Homo sapiens: one gene and its partners. The protein of the gene in region 5 interacts with the protein of the main gene of each other region in a pairwise test. Each region holds a gene or a part of one and is shown on either strand. Other genes may lie near its edges. The genes, in order: UBE2U, UBE2L6, UBE2E2, UBE2D4 and RNF25.

Region 1 (3,521 bases), on a different chromosome or scaffold from region 5:
AGAGGAGTCGGTGCACTCTATGAATCAATTTACTTAAAAATAAAACTGTGGAAAGACTAAACCATAGGGAGAAACTCCAGTGTTAATCAGGTTACAGTTAATCAATAAACATGACACTTTAGTAAAAATGTTTATTTCTATATTATAGGTTTAGTCTTCCAACTGACAATACATTTTACATCGGAGTACAACTATGCTCCTCCAGTTGTGAAATTTATAACAATTCCGTTTCATCCAAATGGTAAGAACTAAATGACATTTTTATCATTAGAGGCTTTGTCCCTATTATCCTTGTTTCTTATAATAATCATGTTTCTTTTTAAGAACTTTATTATGATTCTAAAAGTAAGAACTCTCATTGGGGAAAATATGAAAAGGCTGGAAAAAATTAGCAATCACCTTAAATCCTAATGCAAAGAGAAAATACTGTCAACATTTTGCCAAATTTATTTTCCTTTTTTCTAAGTATGAATTTTTTCTATACAGTTGAGGTATTATGCATGAAGTTTTGCCTCTAGGTTTTTGATTTTATTTATTTTATGGTGTTTTTTTTGAGACAGAGTCTCTCTCTGTCGCCCAGGCTGGAATGCAGTGGTGTGATCTCGGCTCACTGCAACCTTCACCTCCCAGGTTCAATCGATTCTCCTGCCTCAGCCTCCCCAGTAGCTGGGACTACAGGCATGCGCCACCACACCTGGCTAGTTTTTGTATTTTTAGCAGAGATGGGGTTTCACCATGTTGGCCAAGCTGGTCTTGAACTCCTGACCATCCGCCCACTTTGGCCTCCCAAAATGCTGGGATTACAGCTGTGAACCACTGCGCCTGGCCTAGGTTTTTAATTTTAAAACTATATGTCTTTTTTCTGCATTATTAAACAGTCTTCAAAAGATCATCTTAAATGGTTCAACAATACACTTAACCATTTCTGTATTGTTCAATATTTTAGTTGGATCTAATTTTTCATTATTATAAAAAAACGATGCACTGGACAGATTAACTTTTTTTAAATAAAAGGTAAGTTAGATTGCTACTTAAAGTTATACACAAAACCAATTCCTGAAGGATCAAAAATCTAAAAATTTTAAATGCTGGAAAAGAAGGAAATCTAATAGAATTTTTATGGGCTTGGTGAGGAAGACGTTTCTCAGCATGATAAAACCCAGTAACTGTATGGAAAATATGACACATTAAACTGCAAAACCTGTTAAAACTTCTCTACGGCCCAGGACATTATACTCAGAGGTCAAAGACACTGACTTTTGCAAACTGAGGGAAAATATTTGCAATGCATGTAACAGAATATGTATACCATATGAAGAACACTTGTCAATCAATATAAAAAGAACATAAAGCAATTAAAAAATGGAGAAAGGCTATAAACAAACACTGGACAGAATAAACAACAAAAATAAACATAAAAAGATTATCAATCTCACTACTAAGAAAATAAAAGCAAATTAAAACAAAAAGTATTGTTATTTATCACATATTCATAAAATGTCAAAATATAACATACATATTTAGTAGGCATGGGCAGACATTGTTCCTCTGATATAATCATGACCTTTTGAGGAAGTAGTGTGACAGTTTCTAATCAGGTATAAAATGCATATATCCCTAAATTCCCGTAATACCATGTTTATAAACTATTCTGTAGAAATATTAGCACAAGTGTGCAAGAGTGTGTTATATTTAAAGACGTTTATTCCCACCAGGCTCAGTGGCTTATGCCTGTTATCCCAGTACTTTGGGTGGTCAGTGGGGAGTATTGCTTGGGTCCAGGAGTTTGACACCAGCCTGGGCAACATAGTGAGACCTGTCTCTACAGAAAATAAAAAAATTAGCTTGGCATGGTAGCATGTGCCTGTAGTCCCAGCTACTTCAGGTCTGAGGTAGGAGGATTGCTTGAGCCCAGGAGGTCGAGGCTGCAGTGAGCCATGATTGTGCCATTGCACTCCAGCCTGGGCAACAGAACAAGACGCTGTCTCAAAAAAAAAAAAAAAAAAAAAAAAAAAAAAAAAAAAAAAAAAAGATGTTTATTCCCAACAGCAATGTTAGAAATAGGAAAAATGGAAATAACTTCAATCTCCATTAACACAGGAATTTTAAGTGAAATATCCTACAGTTACGTGTATTGCTTCTAAACAGAACGAGGAAGGTCTACGAACCTTTTAGGTCTAGATCATTGCTATATCCTTAGAATCTTCACTGCGTGGCATATAGTAGGTATTCAGATATTTTTTGAATAAATATTTGTGTCCAGAAATATGTTGAAAATACATTGTTAAGTGAAAAAATACATTGAACAATAAAATGTAAAATATATTCCCATTTAATAAACACACACATATGGGTGTGTATACATATATGTGTTTGTGTGTATATTTGTATAGACCAACTGGTAATATTGGTCTTGAATAGTAGAATTAGTAGGCAGGGGAACATTCATATTTTACATTAGATTTTTTATGTTTTTTTCCCAAGTACATTATTTTATTGTAATTAAAACCTATTTTTGGTATCTATAACACAAAATTAATTACATACGTGTGCCTTTATTTGTTTAAAATAGTTAGAATTATTGGATTAAATTCAATGGGGGGAGGTACTCTTATCCCCTAGTCCTCATCCCTCCCACTTCCATAAAGTAGAGGGAACTTTAGTCTCTAGGAGGGGGAAGGTATAGGAAAACTTGTGACTGCTCTTTTTTTTTCCCCCATCACTCCTCCTAGAAGTCACTTATCTGATTAGGGAGATGAAGGAAAGAATTGAGCATATGTGGCCCAGAACTTGCTCAACACTCTCTCCTTCTGACCATACTGGGTATAGTCTCTTTTGCTCCAGGCAGGAAACTTAGGCAGGCCTTCGGTTTGGGAGTTAAGTTTAAATCAGGGGGACTTTTGTGGAGCCTGATTAAAGCCATTCATCAAGTGCGTTCTCCATTTCAGTCTTATGTGCAATGAAGCTGATGTTTTTACTTCCACCTTTCAATACTTTGATCTATTTTATAATTACATATGAACTTGAGGGGAGAGAAGGGTTATTTACTAGCTTTCAACCCCCGCCCCCGCCCGCCCCGCAAAAGATGGCTATGTACAGTTTTAAGTCTTTATATAAAAAGCCAAATTGCCTTTCGGTGGTATTTGTACTCCTACCAAAAAGTACATATAAAGTTCTTATTTTAGCACCTTCCAATTCTGGCCATTGAAACTTTGAAGAAAATTTTTTTGCCAATTTGGTAAGAGTCTTGCTATTATTTTAATAAGCACTTCTTTGAATACTTGAGAAGTAAACATTTCCCACCTTTGTTGATTCTTATTTTGTGACTCGTATGATACAATTGACAGTGCTATCACATTGTCCTAGATGTTGCAAATATTTCCTCTAATTTGTCATTAATTTTCAACTTTGTTTATGCTGTTTTTTCACATCTGGGATTTAGAGATTTTTATGATTTAAAATAAATTTATATTTAAGATCTATTAATCTTGTCCTTTGAGGCTTTTGCAGTTGTCTTTCAT
Region 2 (3,521 bases), on a different chromosome or scaffold from region 5:
CACCCGCCACCACGCCCAGCTAATTTTTGTATTTTTAGTAGAGATGTGGTTTCACCATGTTAGCCAGGCTGGTCTCGAACTCCTGACCTCAGGTGATCCACCGGCTTTGGCCTCCCACAGTGCTGGGATTACAGGCGTGAGCCACCATGCCCAGCCCAGATGATTTTTTATTGCTCATTAAAATTTTTTTAAATTTCTGATTGAAGAACTCCTTTTTAGCATTTCTTGTAGGACAGGTCTGGTGTCGATGGTATCTCTCAGCTTTTGTTTGTCTGGGAAAGTCTTTATTTCTCCTTCATGTTTGAAGGATATTTTCACTGGATATACTATTCTAGGGTAAAAGATTTTTTCCCTCAGCCGTATTTCATTTAAATATGTCATGCCACTCTCTCTTGGCCTGTAAGATTTCCACTGAAAAGTCGCTGCTGGACATATTGGAGCTCCATTGTATGTTATGTGTTTATTTTCTCTTGCTGCTGTTAGGACCCTTTCTTTAATCCCTGACATCTGGGAGATTGATTATTAAATGCCTTGAGGTAGTCTTCTTTGGGTTAAGTCTGCTTGGTGTTCTATAACCTTCTCATGTTTGGATATTGATATCTTTCTCTAGATTTGGGAAATTCTCTGCTACTATCCGTTTGAATAAACTTTCTAGCCCTGTCTCTCTCCCTACCTCCTATTTAAGGCCAGTAACTCTTAGATTTGCCCTTTTGAGGCCATTGTCTAGATCCTGTAGGCATACTTCATTCTTTGTTTATTCTTTTTTTTTATTTTTGAGACGGAGTCTCGCTCTGTTGCCCAGGATGGAGTGCAGTGGCACAATCTTGGCTCACTGCAAGCTCTGCCTCCTGGGTTCATACCATTCTCCTGCCTCAACCTCCTGAGTAGCTGGGACTACAGGCGCCCACCACCACGCCCGGCTAATTTTTTTTTTTTTTTTTGTATTTTTAGTAGAGATGAGGTTTCACCGTGTTAGCCAGGATGGTCTCGATCTCCTGATCTCGTGATCCACCTGCCTCGGCCTCCCAAAGTCTTTGTTTATTCTTTTATTATTTTGCTTCATCTGACTGTATTTTCAAATACCCTGTCTTTAAACACTCTAGTTCTTCTGCTTGATCAATTCTGCTGTTAAAAGACTGATGCGTTTCAGTATGTTAATTGCATTTTTTTCTTTCTTTCTTTTTTTTTTTTTTTTGAGACAGAGTTCCACTCTTGTTGCCCAGGCTGGAGTGCAATGGCATGCTCTCGGCTCACTGCAACCTCTGCCTCTCCAATTCTCCTGCCTGAGCCTCCCAAGTAGCTGGGATTACAGGCCTGCACCACCATGCCCAGCTAATTTTTGTATTTTTAGTAGAAACAGGGCCTCACCACGTTGGCCAGGCTGGTCTTGCACTCCTAACCTCAGGTGATCTGACTGCCTCGGCCTCCCAAAGTGCTGGGATTACAGGCATGAGCCACTGCACCCGGCCTCAATTGCATTTTTCGACTCCGGAATTTCTCCTTGATTCTTTTTAATTATTTCAATTTATTTGTTAAATTTGTTGATGGGATTCTGAATTCCTTCTCTGTGGAGGAAATATTGAATTTCTTTGAGTTTCCTCAAAACAGCTATTTTGATTTCTCTGTCTGAAAGGTCACATATCTCTGTTTCTCTGGAATTGGCCCTGTGTGCCTTATTTAGTTCGTTTGGTGAGGCTGTGTTTTCCTGGATCGTCTTGAAGCTTGTGGATGTTTGTTGGTGTCTGGGCACTAAGGAGTTAGGTATTTATTATAGTCTTTGTAGTCTGGGCTTGTTTGTACTCATCCTTCTTGGGAAGGCTTTCGAGGTATTGGAAGGGGCTTGGCTGTTGTGATCTAAGTTTTGGTCACTGCAGCCATGTCTACATAAGGGGGCACTCCAAGCCTAGTAACACTGTAGTTCTTGCAGACTTTTAGAGGTTACTACCTTTGTGGTTTTGGATAACATCAGGAAGAATTCTCTGGATTACCAGGTAGAGACTCTCATTTTCTTCCCTTACTTTCTCCCAAACAAATGGAGTCTTACTCTCCGTGCTGAGCTCCCTGGAGCTGGGTGAGGTGTGACACAAGCATCCCCATGGTCACCAGAATTGGGACTGCACTGGGTCAGGCCTGAAGCCAGCACAAGACTGGGTTTTGCTCAAGGCCCGCTGTAATCACTACCTGGCTATGCCCTACGTTCGCTCAAGGCCCTAGGGCTCTGCAATCAGCAGGTGGTGAAGCCAGCCAGGCTTGTGTTCTTCCCCTTAGGGTGGTTAGTTCACTGCTGGGCCCCAGAGAGGTCCACAGTTGCTGTCCATGGGCCAGGGCCTGGAGTCGGAAACCTTAGAAATCTCTCTAGTGCTCTGTGCTACTGCAGCTAAGCTGGCACTGAAACCACAGGACACAGTCCTTCCCACTCTTCCCTCCCTTTTCCCCAGATATAGGAGTCTCTCCCCTTGTCCACCACCACCACGGGTCTATGAGGAGTACTGCCAGGGTACTACTGCTGATGTTCGCCTAAGGCCCAAAGGCCCTTCAGTCAGCTTGTGGTGAATGTGACCAGGCCTGAGACTCACCCTGCAGGGCAGCGGTCTCCCCTCTTGTTCGGCCAGATAATTCTTTGTTAGGATGTTTATCAGCATCTCTGGCCTCTATCCACTCTCCCGATTTATGACAACGGAACAATGTTCCCAGATATTACCGAATGTCCCTGGCTGGGTAAAATCGCCCCTGGTTGAGAACCACTGGTTTGTACCAATTCATTGTTCCAGAGAAATGTGACCTGCCCTTGAGTGTCTTTATCTTCCCCAACAAGAAAAGGCCTGTAGTCCCACAAGATGGACTCTAAAAGAGGGGCAGCATTCCTTTGTCAAATACATTTGAGAAGTACTGCATGCTGTGGGCCCACAGCTTGGTCAATCACCATACACAATAGCATATTAAAGGCTGTGGGAAGTTCTCCAGTGAAGAAACCTCTTTAGCCGAGATTTACCAAATGTACTTGACCTTGGAACCCTTTTCCTGTACTACCTATTAACCTTCTGCAGGACATACTGTACTTATGTTTCCCATCTGGGCCCTCTGCCCTGGTGCTTCTCCCCTTCTCTGCTTTATGGATTCCTGTTCATTCTGCATGGCCCAGCTCACAGAGTGCACCCTCTGTGAAACCTTCCTTCTCCCCTCTCATCTCCTTCCTTACCGTATATCCATACACATTCACATAATCACATCCATGTTTCGTCCATTACTCTATTGAAATTCTTGAGGACTGGGTCCTGTCTCAGTTAAATGTCAGTAGAAGATGCTCAGTAATGGCTGTTGGGAGAATTCAGAAGGGATATTCAGGTGTTTGGGCCACAGTTTTGGGAAGATGAGTCACTCCTTGCCCCCTTGTTTCCCCACTTGGTGTGTAGAGTTCTTCTCTGCTATGGTCTTCCGGAGTCATTTCCCTTCTCCAGCCCTGATCTGGCAGAGTTTGAAGCGGTGGGGTCATGTCTTTGCTGCAGATGCTCAGTCGATGC
Region 3 (3,521 bases), on a different chromosome or scaffold from region 5:
GCACTTTGGGAGGCCAAGGCAGGCGGATGACTTGAGGTCAGGAGTTCAAGACCAGCCTGGCCAACATGGCAAAACCCTGTCTCTACTAAAAATACAAAAATTAGCTGGGTGTGGTGGCGGGCACCTCTAATCCCAGCTACTTGGGAGGCTGAGGCAGGACAATCGCTTGAACCCGGGAGGTGGAGGTTGCAGTGAGCAAAGATCACGCCACTGCACTCCAGCCTGGGCAACAGAGCGAAACTCTATCTCAAAAAAAAAAAAAAAGAAAAAAAAACTGTTATAGAATAATATTTATTTTCTTTGTATTAGTACTCTCATGCTTTTTGGTGTTTGAATATTATAAATGTACAAAATCCTTAAAATAACTGGAATCTAACAAAAGTTTTCTTTGAAATTTTTTAGAAGTCAGAGTCAGTTTCTCCCCATGAACATTCCTGTAGTTGTATCAAAAGTAAATTCAGTCCCTAAAACATTTGTTAAATAACAGGACTCTTTATAAGAAGCAGAATGTCATGGTTTTGCTGTTGATGTTTATTTCTCTGTGCCCAAAATGACAAATTCTAAAATGATGATCTCTGTTGATTAATCTCATGTGCCCAAGAAAAAAATCAAGTGTATGTTAACCAATAGCCTGGGCTATTTTGTCTGATAAAATAGGCAATTTTATTAGACAAAAATTGTCTATAGATACTGTTAATAAACACTTTGTCTAACAAAATATAACTTTACATTTTCTTGTAGGTTACCTTCCGAACAAGAATCTATCACTGTAATATTAACAGCCAAGGTGTGATCTGTCTGGACATCTTAAAGGACAACTGGAGTCCGGCTTTAACTATTTCTAAAGTTCTCCTCTCCATCTGCTCACTTCTTACAGATTGCAACCCTGGTAAGAGACTTTAAATCTAGTATGAATTGGAGCTTGTCAAGATTTAAATGTCAGACCCTTAGTAACTTGTTTACTACTGCTACTACCACTACCACCACTGCTTCTACTACTATTATTGTTAAATTTTCATAGTATGTAACTATTTTCTTTTTAAATTGGGTCTTCTCATTAGTGTTTTTAAGACCTATCATTTGCCAAAAAGGAAAAAGTATAGTGTGGTAAAAAAAATAATGAAAAATCATTTTAGATGGGAAAGTACGTTTAAAGAATGAATTAAGTTATCCTGCCAAATAATAATAAAAATTCAAGTTGAATAGCTTAATCTTTAATTAGATGCCTACTAGAAGATGTTAATTTGAGGAATGTGGGCTATTAAAATCTGATAACAACCAGGCAGCACCATGCAGACGTGACCTTTTTGGCATCCTAGTAACTGTGCATCCTGACAAGCTATTATAACGGTCCTGAATGGTCTGTTCTAGGAAATACCCCAAAAGTAAACAAGGAAATACACCTCCCAAGAAAACGAAAAAGTCTATAGCCAGGCCTTTATGGCTTGCTGGTGTGCTTACCACTGAAAATTCTTAATTCCTGGGCCATGTCTTTACAAATTGGGTTTATTTTAGAAAATACAAAAATCCAAAGATAGCTATAGGGTTTTCATTGATGTTCTCAGTGGGAGAATTATTTTATGAGTAATTAATAGCTTAAATATTGCATGAGATTCCCTCTTCTACAATCATGAGTAAACTCTGTTCACTGGATACATGAAATTTTACACAAATGGAAATGACGAGTATCAGTGGGGTTGCTTAGGATCCTGGCTGTTTTATAAAACATCAAGAAATAACAGTCTTTCTACTTTTATATTTCTTTATTTTTCAGCAGTAAAATCTTTTTTAAAGTAGCAAATTAGTATTTTTTTTTTTTTTTTTTTTTTGAAACTGAGTCTCACTGTGTCACCCAGGCTGGAGTGCAGTGGCACGATCTTGGCTCCCGCAACCTCCGCCTCCTGGATTCAAGCGATTCTCCTATCTTAGCCCCCCAAGTAGCTGGGATTACAGCCGTGTGCCGCCAAGCCCAGCTTATTTTTGTACTTTTAGTAGAGACGGGGTTTCACCGTGTTGGCCAGCCAGGTCTCGAACTCCTGACCTTGTGATCCGCCCGCTTTGGCCCCCCAAAGTGCTGGGATTACAGGCATGAGCCACTGTACCCAGCCTGCCCAAAAAATAAAATTGTGCAGGATCATTATAAAATATTTTTTGAATTAATTCATACTTTACTACAGACAGTAAAGTCCAATAATGTTATACTAATTTAAAGTTAATTTTGTTCTTTCAGTCCTGTTGTTCCCATTTTAATCCCATTTGTCTGTGACTGTGTATAACCTTGTATAACCTCATTTGGAGGTAATGTTGCAAGAAGGCTTTTTTTTTTTTTTTTTTTTTGAGGTGATTTCGAAGCCTGGCCTGCTTTGCCTCCAAGTCAGCTGAAATGGAATCTGTTACCCTGAATAAGCCTGTATATGACAGCCTGTTCTCTCTACAGATATTCCTGCTTAAAGGAATAGATTCATTCCACCAAAGCCTTCTCTCAGCAATCAAAAAGACTTCTGTTCAGTGAACTAGTTTTTTTTTTTTGCTCCGTTTCAGAAAATTACAAATGCATTCTGCAAAAACTTAAAAATCACTCCTAACTAAAGCAGAACCACATAAGTAAAAGAAATAGATTTTGAAATAATGCTATTGATAGTAAGAACAAGCCTAAAAATAATGTTCCATAAAACCAAAGACAGCCTGCCTCATATGAGACTAGAAGAGAATTTGTAAAATACATGCTAACATTTAGTTTATCACACTTTTTAACACATAAAAATAAAGTTTCCTAATTGGTTTTTATGAATGTTGACACTTCTAGAATCTTAAATAGAGTTGTTTATTTTAAAGTAGTCAAATGTCCATTCTTTTGCTTAATGGACTTATTTCACACTGTTATCTGGTACACTTTCAATCTCTGTAGGTTTTTTTACCTACAGAGGTAGGAAAGATTAGGTTAGATTGAAGTTTATCTTAAATCTATCTTCAAATTATCACAAAAACAAGTTTGATAGAATAGGAATAAATAAGATTTTCCTACACTGAATCTGTAGAGCTATTTTAACCCGGAAATGCTGTCACCTCAAAAATAGGCCTTGTATAATGATACAAATTTAACTCACTTAAAAAATACTTTCTCACTCTTATCCATACATAAACTTATTTTCTAAATCTTTTTCATACTCTTTTTGTAATTTGCACTTGTCTCTTTAAAGAATTTTTGGTCCATTCCAACACAGATGTTCTTTAGGGTATGACTACCCATCCTTATCAGCATGATATTTGTAGACAGCAGATGTAGATTTGAAAACCAGTTTAATTGTTTATTAGTCATATCACATTGGATGGGTCACTTAACTTTCCACAGGCTTAGTTTTTGATATAAAATTGGGATTAGTACCAGCCCTGCCTAAATCACTGGATTCCTCTGAGGTTAAAATGAGATGGTATATGTGAAAGCCATTTATAAATGGTAATGTGTTGTTGATATTGTTACCCAGAGTATTTGGGACACCAAATGGGCCCACAATAGGTGA
Region 4 (3,521 bases), on a different chromosome or scaffold from region 5:
TCACTTTTTCTTGCTGGAATGTGTGCCATCCAGTTCCCCTCCTGGGGGCAACAAATGTTAAAGTATATATATATATATATATATATATATATACACACACATATATATACACATATGTATGTGTGTATATATATAACATATATACACACATATATATACACATATGTATGTGTGTATATATATAACATATATACTTATATGTGTGTATATACATATACGTACATATATATGTGTGGGTGTATATATATATATATTCTACCTATTCATGTAATTGTAGTTAACATTTTTGTGGATTTCTTTTCAGTGCCTTTGATGTGTATGTGTTTCAGATTGTTGTCATGTAGTGCATCAAATTTTATACTCTGCTTTTTTCTTGCCCTTTTCCTCTAATGTTGTATCATGACATTTTCTCCTGTTATTCTGTAGTCTTTAAAAACTAATTTTCAGTGGCTGCATAATACTTGGTTTAGTTTCTCAAAAAAAAGTTTAGTTAACTTCTGATTATAAAGGTAGTAATTGTTCTTTAAAGAAACTTGGGGCTGGGCGTGGTGGCTCAGGCCTGTAATCCCAGCACTTTGGGAGGCTGAGGCAGGAGGATCGCTTGAGGTCAGGAGTTTGAGACCAGCCTGGCCAACATGGTGAAACTCATCTCTACTACAAATACAAAAATTAGCTGGGCATGGTGGTGCGTTCCTGTAATCAGTCCCAGCTACTCTGGAGGGTGAGACACCAGAATTGCTTGAACCCAGTAGGCAGAGGTTGCAGTGAGCCGAGATGGTGCCAGTGTACTCCAGTCTGGGCAACACAGTGAGACCCTGTCTCTAAAAATAAAAATAAAAAATAAAGAGAACTTGGAAATAAGATAATACCATATTCATCTACTTCAAGATGAATATTTTTTCAAATGTTCACGTCTCTGAAATTGGGATGCTTCTTACAATAGCTGTCAGCCAGGTTACCTTCACTTAGATGTCACTATCTGTATGAGTAAACCATCATGGCAGTTCATTATGAGGTAAGTGCATTGCTGGTACTATATTTGTTGAGTTTAATTGTTTTAAAAATATTTTCAAAAAGATAGTGTGATTTAGCACTGAAAAGAAAAGCTTTTGTGAACACAGGCACAGAAACAGGACAACGACGAGTAAATTTCATAATAAGGGAGCAAATATTTGTTGTTGGAGGAAGGACTGGAATTTCCTAATTCCATGTCAAGCAACCAAATTCTTCATAGCCACAGAAAGGAAGGTACCACCTACCCTCAAGTTGGTGAGACTGGGTCATTTTTTTTTTTCTGGAATACGTGCAAATAGATTGTGTATCATGGGCCTTTGCAGAATAAGTATTCATGGCTTGAAAGAAAACTCCAGGAAGAGTAGTAGAGGACTCTAAGAATTGCCACATTACCATTGTTTTGGAAGACACAGAGGATGATATTGTGTAGACATCAATGACTCAGTGTTGGGCTCTGAATGGGAAGAAACTTTAGGAATACCTGAACAAACCAGTTTATTTATTTCACTTGTTTTTCCTTTTTTTTTTTTTTGTATTCATGAATGATACTTAACAAGAAACACACAAAGCTATGTTTAAGCCTAAAATAATTCTTTTGATAAAAGTAATTTTAATTTTTTAATTTTTTGAAACAGAATCTCACTCTGTCACACAGGCGCAGTCTTGGCTCACTGCAACCTCCACCTCCCGGGCTAAAGCAATTCTTTTTTTTTTTTCCCACAAGAAGAAAAAGTACATTTTATTTAATGACCAAGTACACACACACATTCACACACATGCATATGTACATATAACTAAAAAAAATATTTTTTCTCATCACATGGGATGCATTGTGAAATATTCTACATTCTTTCATTTAAAGAAAAATGCTGGTCACGTTTTAGTAAAAATCTTTCACAAATCACTAATATGTTACAATGCATAACTGCTCTAGAGCATTAACAATGCTAAGCTATAATTTTAGGGAAATATATAGTGGTGCTCCTTCTTAGAATTAGCCCATGTGGTATTTTAGGTACTCAACTCAGGGAAAAAAAAAATGTAACATAGCCTTGTTACCATGTATTCAGCCTGGACATGGTACATGCTTTCAGTGAGCTTAAATCACCTATCTTCCTAGGCCCAAGATCTGAGGGAATGACTTCCAACTACGTAACAGGACCCTTTGTCTGTATTATACATTTTATATGTCTTTTTATGTACATTGTTTCACTTGTTCCTCACAACAACCCTGTGAGGTAGGGAGGGGAAAATATCAGTTACGCTTTATAGATAATGAAGTTAAGGTTCAGAGAGGTTAAGTGACTTTCTCAGTTACCTAGTAAAAGGCAGAGACAGAATAAGAACTATTAACTTTTAGGTTGGGGGCCCTTTTCTCTAAACCACATAGCTTTGGAGAGTATATTCTAACCCAAAATATTTTTACTGCTTCATCCTCATTTTCTTATTATTAATTCAACTTTTTACAGAATACCATAAAAGACCTAATTCTAAATTCATCATGCTAAATTTATGCTTCTCTGTAAACTTATGGCCACAGAATACATATTTTTTTTTTTGGAAAGCACTGTCACTTTGGCCCTAAAGGAACATAAGCAATATAAAGGGCCCCAGAGGCCAAGGAAATTGAAGAGAAGTCAGAAGAAGGGATATAAAATGGAATGTGTTAACGGATTTTAGTCCCTTTAAGTTTGCACTTTTGTGAGAGGGTTCAATGGAGAGCTTTAATGCAGATGAGACTTGAAGCTTTTGAAGAAGATCTAAGTCTTGATGAGGTTATTCAAACTCAGATCTTGAACGCATAATGATGATAGGCCATGGTCTTCAAAAACGTGGTACTTGATGCTCTCCCACAGTGCCAGGACTGGAATGTCACAATACATATAGATTCATGTTTTTGTCCATTAATGGTCTGTGGGTTTCTTTAAATGAAGCCCATTTTAGAGTCCATAGATATCAGTGTTCTGCGAAACTGTTGGGGATTGGAGGCTCCCAAAAGACCCCAGATGCTCTGCCCTGCCCATGGCATCACCCTCTAAAGCGATTCTTGTGCCTCAGCCTCCTGAGTAGCTGGTTATAGGCACATGCCACCAAGCCCAGCTAAGTTTTGTATTTGTAGTAGAGACAGGGTTTCACCATGTTGGCCAAACTGGTCTCGAACTCCTGACATCAGGCGATCTGCCTACCTCGGCCTCCCAAAGTGCTGGGATTACCGGCATGAACCACTGTACACAGCCTGATAAAAGTAATTTTTAAATACAATTAAAGTTTATGTGCAAAGAAAGCATTTGTGTTAGTTTATTTGCCAGCATGTTTTTTTTTTCCTAATTGTATGTAAAGTAAAATTGTGTCTTATAAAGGATGGAGTCTTGGAGTTGACGAAACACCGTAAAGGAATAACTGAGTGTGTACCATGGTTTGCTTAACTCTTCTCTACTACTATTCAATACTTTAACTTACTTTCTCTTTTTCGGAACTTCTCACTTTTATCATTGTTACTTGTAATA
Region 5 (2,826 bases):
GATGACACACTGGCCATGAGGGATGTTGTTATCTGTGAGAATTTCCTTCCCTTTCTGAGGAGAGAAGACACTGATTAAACGGGGGTAGGGGGAAGAACGGTGAGCAAGGCCTGTCTACTACTCCTAGGAGTGACTGGCTAGACTTGGCTCCTAGCAGGCCAGTTTGTTACCTTGTGTTTATGCATTTCTGGCTTGGTGACGCTCCCTCTGCTGGGAATCAATCCTTCTCCACATCTCTGCCCCTCCCCCAAAATTTGATCTTCCTGGTTTCAAAATTCAACCTAATTGTTTTTCCTTTCATTAAGTCACTTTTAATATATCTTGGAGATGAAAATAATACACCTTGAGAAAAAAAATGTTCAATTAAAATTTATCTTCTGGGAGGCCTTTCTTGATTAGCCCCCTTCAATATCACTCCCCCATGGGGCAATGTGTTTGTTCTAAGTCAGCTTTCAGAAAGCATGACAAGGCATGGACAACCCAAATGGACAGAGAATTCACAAGGCATTGAGTTGGGCTGTGAACTATGCATTTGAATTGTTATTTGAATAGCTAATAGTGTACTCTGGAATTCCACAAAGTCCAAGGCTGCATTGTGGAGGCCTGACCTAGGACTGCTACGGTGGCCTATCAAACCCACTCTCTTTGACTCTCAGCCACCCACCTTCATTCTATTCTGAACATTTTTCTTAAAAATTTAAACTAAGAGAGGCTGGGCGTGGTGGCTCATGCCTATAATCCCAGCACTTTGGGAGGCTGAGGCAGGTGGATAACCTGAGGTCAGGAGTTCAAGACCAGCCTGGCCAACATGGAGAAACCCCATCTCTACTAAAAATATAAAATTAGCTGGGTGTGGTGGCACATGCCTGTGATCCTAGCTATCTGGGAGGCTGAGGCAGGAGAATCACTTGAACCTGGGAGGCGGAGGTTGCAGTGAGCTGAGATCACACCACTGCACTCCAGCCTGGGTGACAGACTAAGACTGTCTCAAAAAAAAAAAAAAAATTAAAATTAATAAATAAACAAACTAGGGGAAAATAAAACTGTACTTAATTTTATATTTTTAATCTCAAACAATAAAAGTTTTCTGTGTATATTGGAGCTTCAGGTGTTGCTTCATGTGGGTTGTTTCATCAAGCAGTGTATAAGCTCTTTCAGTAAAGGAACCATGACTTTTTCTTTTTTTTTTTTTTGAGATGGAGTCTCACTCTGTTGCCCAGGCTGGAGTGCAGTGCATGATCTTGGCTCCCTGCAATCTCCGCCTCCCGGGTTCAAGCGATTCTCCTTCCTCAGCCTCCCAAGTAACTGGGATTACAAATGCCCGCCACCGTGCCTGGCCAACCATGACTTTTTCTAGTCAGGTCCAATGGCAGTCTAGCCTTCAAATGTTCATTTATGGCTAAGACGCCCCCAAGCAAGATGCGTATCTTTTGCCACTTTCAGTTGCCAGTGCCAAGAGAACAAGACATATACTGAAACTGATGCAAGAAAAATTCAAGGTGAAGAGGAAAAGTCATTTTCTGTCAAGATGCTGGCATAGGCAACTTGGAGAAGCTACTGAACTGTCTTTTGGGAAGTTTTTCAAATAGAAGAGTCTCATTTCTCTGGATTAATTTAGGCCTTACCTAATGACTCCAGATCCGTTTAAGATTCTAGGCCCATGGTTTCCCTTTTACAGCTAGAAACTGCTCTAGCTTGAAGGAAAGAACATATCTCAGACTAGCGCACCTCTTACCTCAATGAGTTCATACAGCATGGCAGTGCCCAGCCCAGCCTTGGCCACGTGGCCCAGCACCTGTAAGATCCTGGAGGAAGAGGGCAAACCAAATATTAGACCTGCCCATTTCTGTCACCGGGCAAAGCTGTAGCTGAGTTTTCCCTGTTCTGACAGGTTCAACTTACGTGTGGATCTGTTCATCTGAAAGTCCTCGGGGATTTCGGATAGAGATCTGTGGCACCTCATGGGGATACTAGTGGGGGCAAATAACAAGTTACTGCTGAAGCGGTCCACCCCAGGGACTCTCCCCTTCCTCCCTTTGCTGCCACACAGTAGGGGCTTCACCTCTGCTGGGACCTGAAGCACCAGAGTGAAGCAGACATACTGTGAATCCTGGTCCTCTGCAGTGGCAGGATGCAAAGTGATGTAGATCTCCCATGGTGAAGTTCTGCAGGTGGATCAAGTGGACACGCAGATGTGACTGGGTAGGGGCTTGGGGGCTGGGGAGGATGGGGCTGAGACAGTGAAGTGGGCAAAGGAAGTACACATTGGACTCTTTCTTTTGGGGTAGGATTAAAGGAATAGCTTTTGTCTACACAAGAGAAATATTATCTCTGAATCAAGGCTCACAATGTCTTAAGACCCAAATTCAGCATAGAACCTCTCCTCATTACTAGGGGGACTCCTGCCCACCACTGGTTGAATACATACCTGCCATTTCCTTTAATCACCTGTAGTTCATCTAGATAGATGGACTCCAATACTTCAACTTCAGAGGGAAGGACCCTAGAGAGACAGGAGTAGACTAACTTACCATTACAGCTCTCCCTGTGGAAGCCTGCTAAGGCCAATAAAGGCAGGCTTTGTAGAAAAATGGCAATCTACCAGAATGCATTCTCCTGCTAAACTCCTTAAAAACAAGGAATATGTTACCTTAAGTTGTCAACTGGCCAAATAGAAGGCATGGAAATCAGAATTTTAGGCATCATTTCTGCCAACAGATGAAGAAGTGGATTCTAGAGAAGTAAAATGACTAACCAAGGCTTAACATAGGTAGAACTAGGCCCAGAGCCAGGTTTCCTGACTCCCTGTTTAAGTTTCATTCCCCT

The links.
Region 1: the proteins of RNF25 (region 5) and UBE2U interact in a two-hybrid assay, tested with the Homo sapiens proteins (one large-scale study listed by BioGRID and IntAct).
Region 2: the proteins of RNF25 (region 5) and UBE2L6 interact in a two-hybrid assay, tested with the Homo sapiens proteins (one large-scale study listed by BioGRID and IntAct).
Region 3: the proteins of RNF25 (region 5) and UBE2E2 interact in binary tests that used the Homo sapiens proteins (3 or more experiments, as listed by UniProt).
Region 4: the proteins of RNF25 (region 5) and UBE2D4 interact in binary tests that used the Homo sapiens proteins (3 or more experiments, as listed by UniProt).

What each region holds. Positions count from the first base shown.
Region 1 is NC_000001.11:64,206,616-64,210,136, forward strand, and holds part of UBE2U (ubiquitin-conjugating enzyme E2 U), read left to right. Parts: intron 1-148; coding exon 149-241; intron 242-3,521. UniProt on the Homo sapiens protein: Catalyzes the covalent attachment of ubiquitin to other proteins.
Region 2 is NC_000011.10:57,561,156-57,564,676, reverse strand, and holds part of UBE2L6 (ubiquitin/ISG15-conjugating enzyme E2 L6), read left to right. Parts: intron 1-3,521. UniProt on the Homo sapiens protein: Catalyzes the covalent attachment of ubiquitin or ISG15 to other proteins. Functions in the E6/E6-AP-induced ubiquitination of p53/TP53. Promotes ubiquitination and subsequent proteasomal degradation of FLT3.
Region 3 is NC_000003.12:23,531,813-23,535,333, forward strand, and holds part of UBE2E2 (ubiquitin-conjugating enzyme E2 E2), read left to right. Parts: intron 1-741; coding exon 742-889; intron 890-2,340; coding exon of another isoform or gene 2,341-2,402; exon of another isoform or gene 2,403-3,521.
Region 4 is NC_000007.14:43,932,922-43,936,442, forward strand, and holds part of UBE2D4 (ubiquitin-conjugating enzyme E2 D4), read left to right. Parts: intron 1-3,521. UniProt on the Homo sapiens protein: Accepts ubiquitin from the E1 complex and catalyzes its covalent attachment to other proteins. In vitro able to promote polyubiquitination using all 7 ubiquitin Lys residues, but may prefer 'Lys-11' and 'Lys-48'-linked polyubiquitination.
Region 5 is NC_000002.12:218,666,177-218,669,002, forward strand, and holds part of RNF25 (E3 ubiquitin-protein ligase RNF25), read right to left. Parts: intron 2,504-2,826; coding exon 2,429-2,503; intron 2,166-2,428; coding exon 2,063-2,165; intron 1,971-2,062; coding exon 1,903-1,970; intron 1,806-1,902; coding exon 1,736-1,805; intron 55-1,735; coding exon 1-54. UniProt on the Homo sapiens protein: E3 ubiquitin-protein ligase that plays a key role in the RNF14-RNF25 translation quality control pathway, a pathway that takes place when a ribosome has stalled during translation, and which promotes ubiquitination and degradation of translation factors on stalled ribosomes.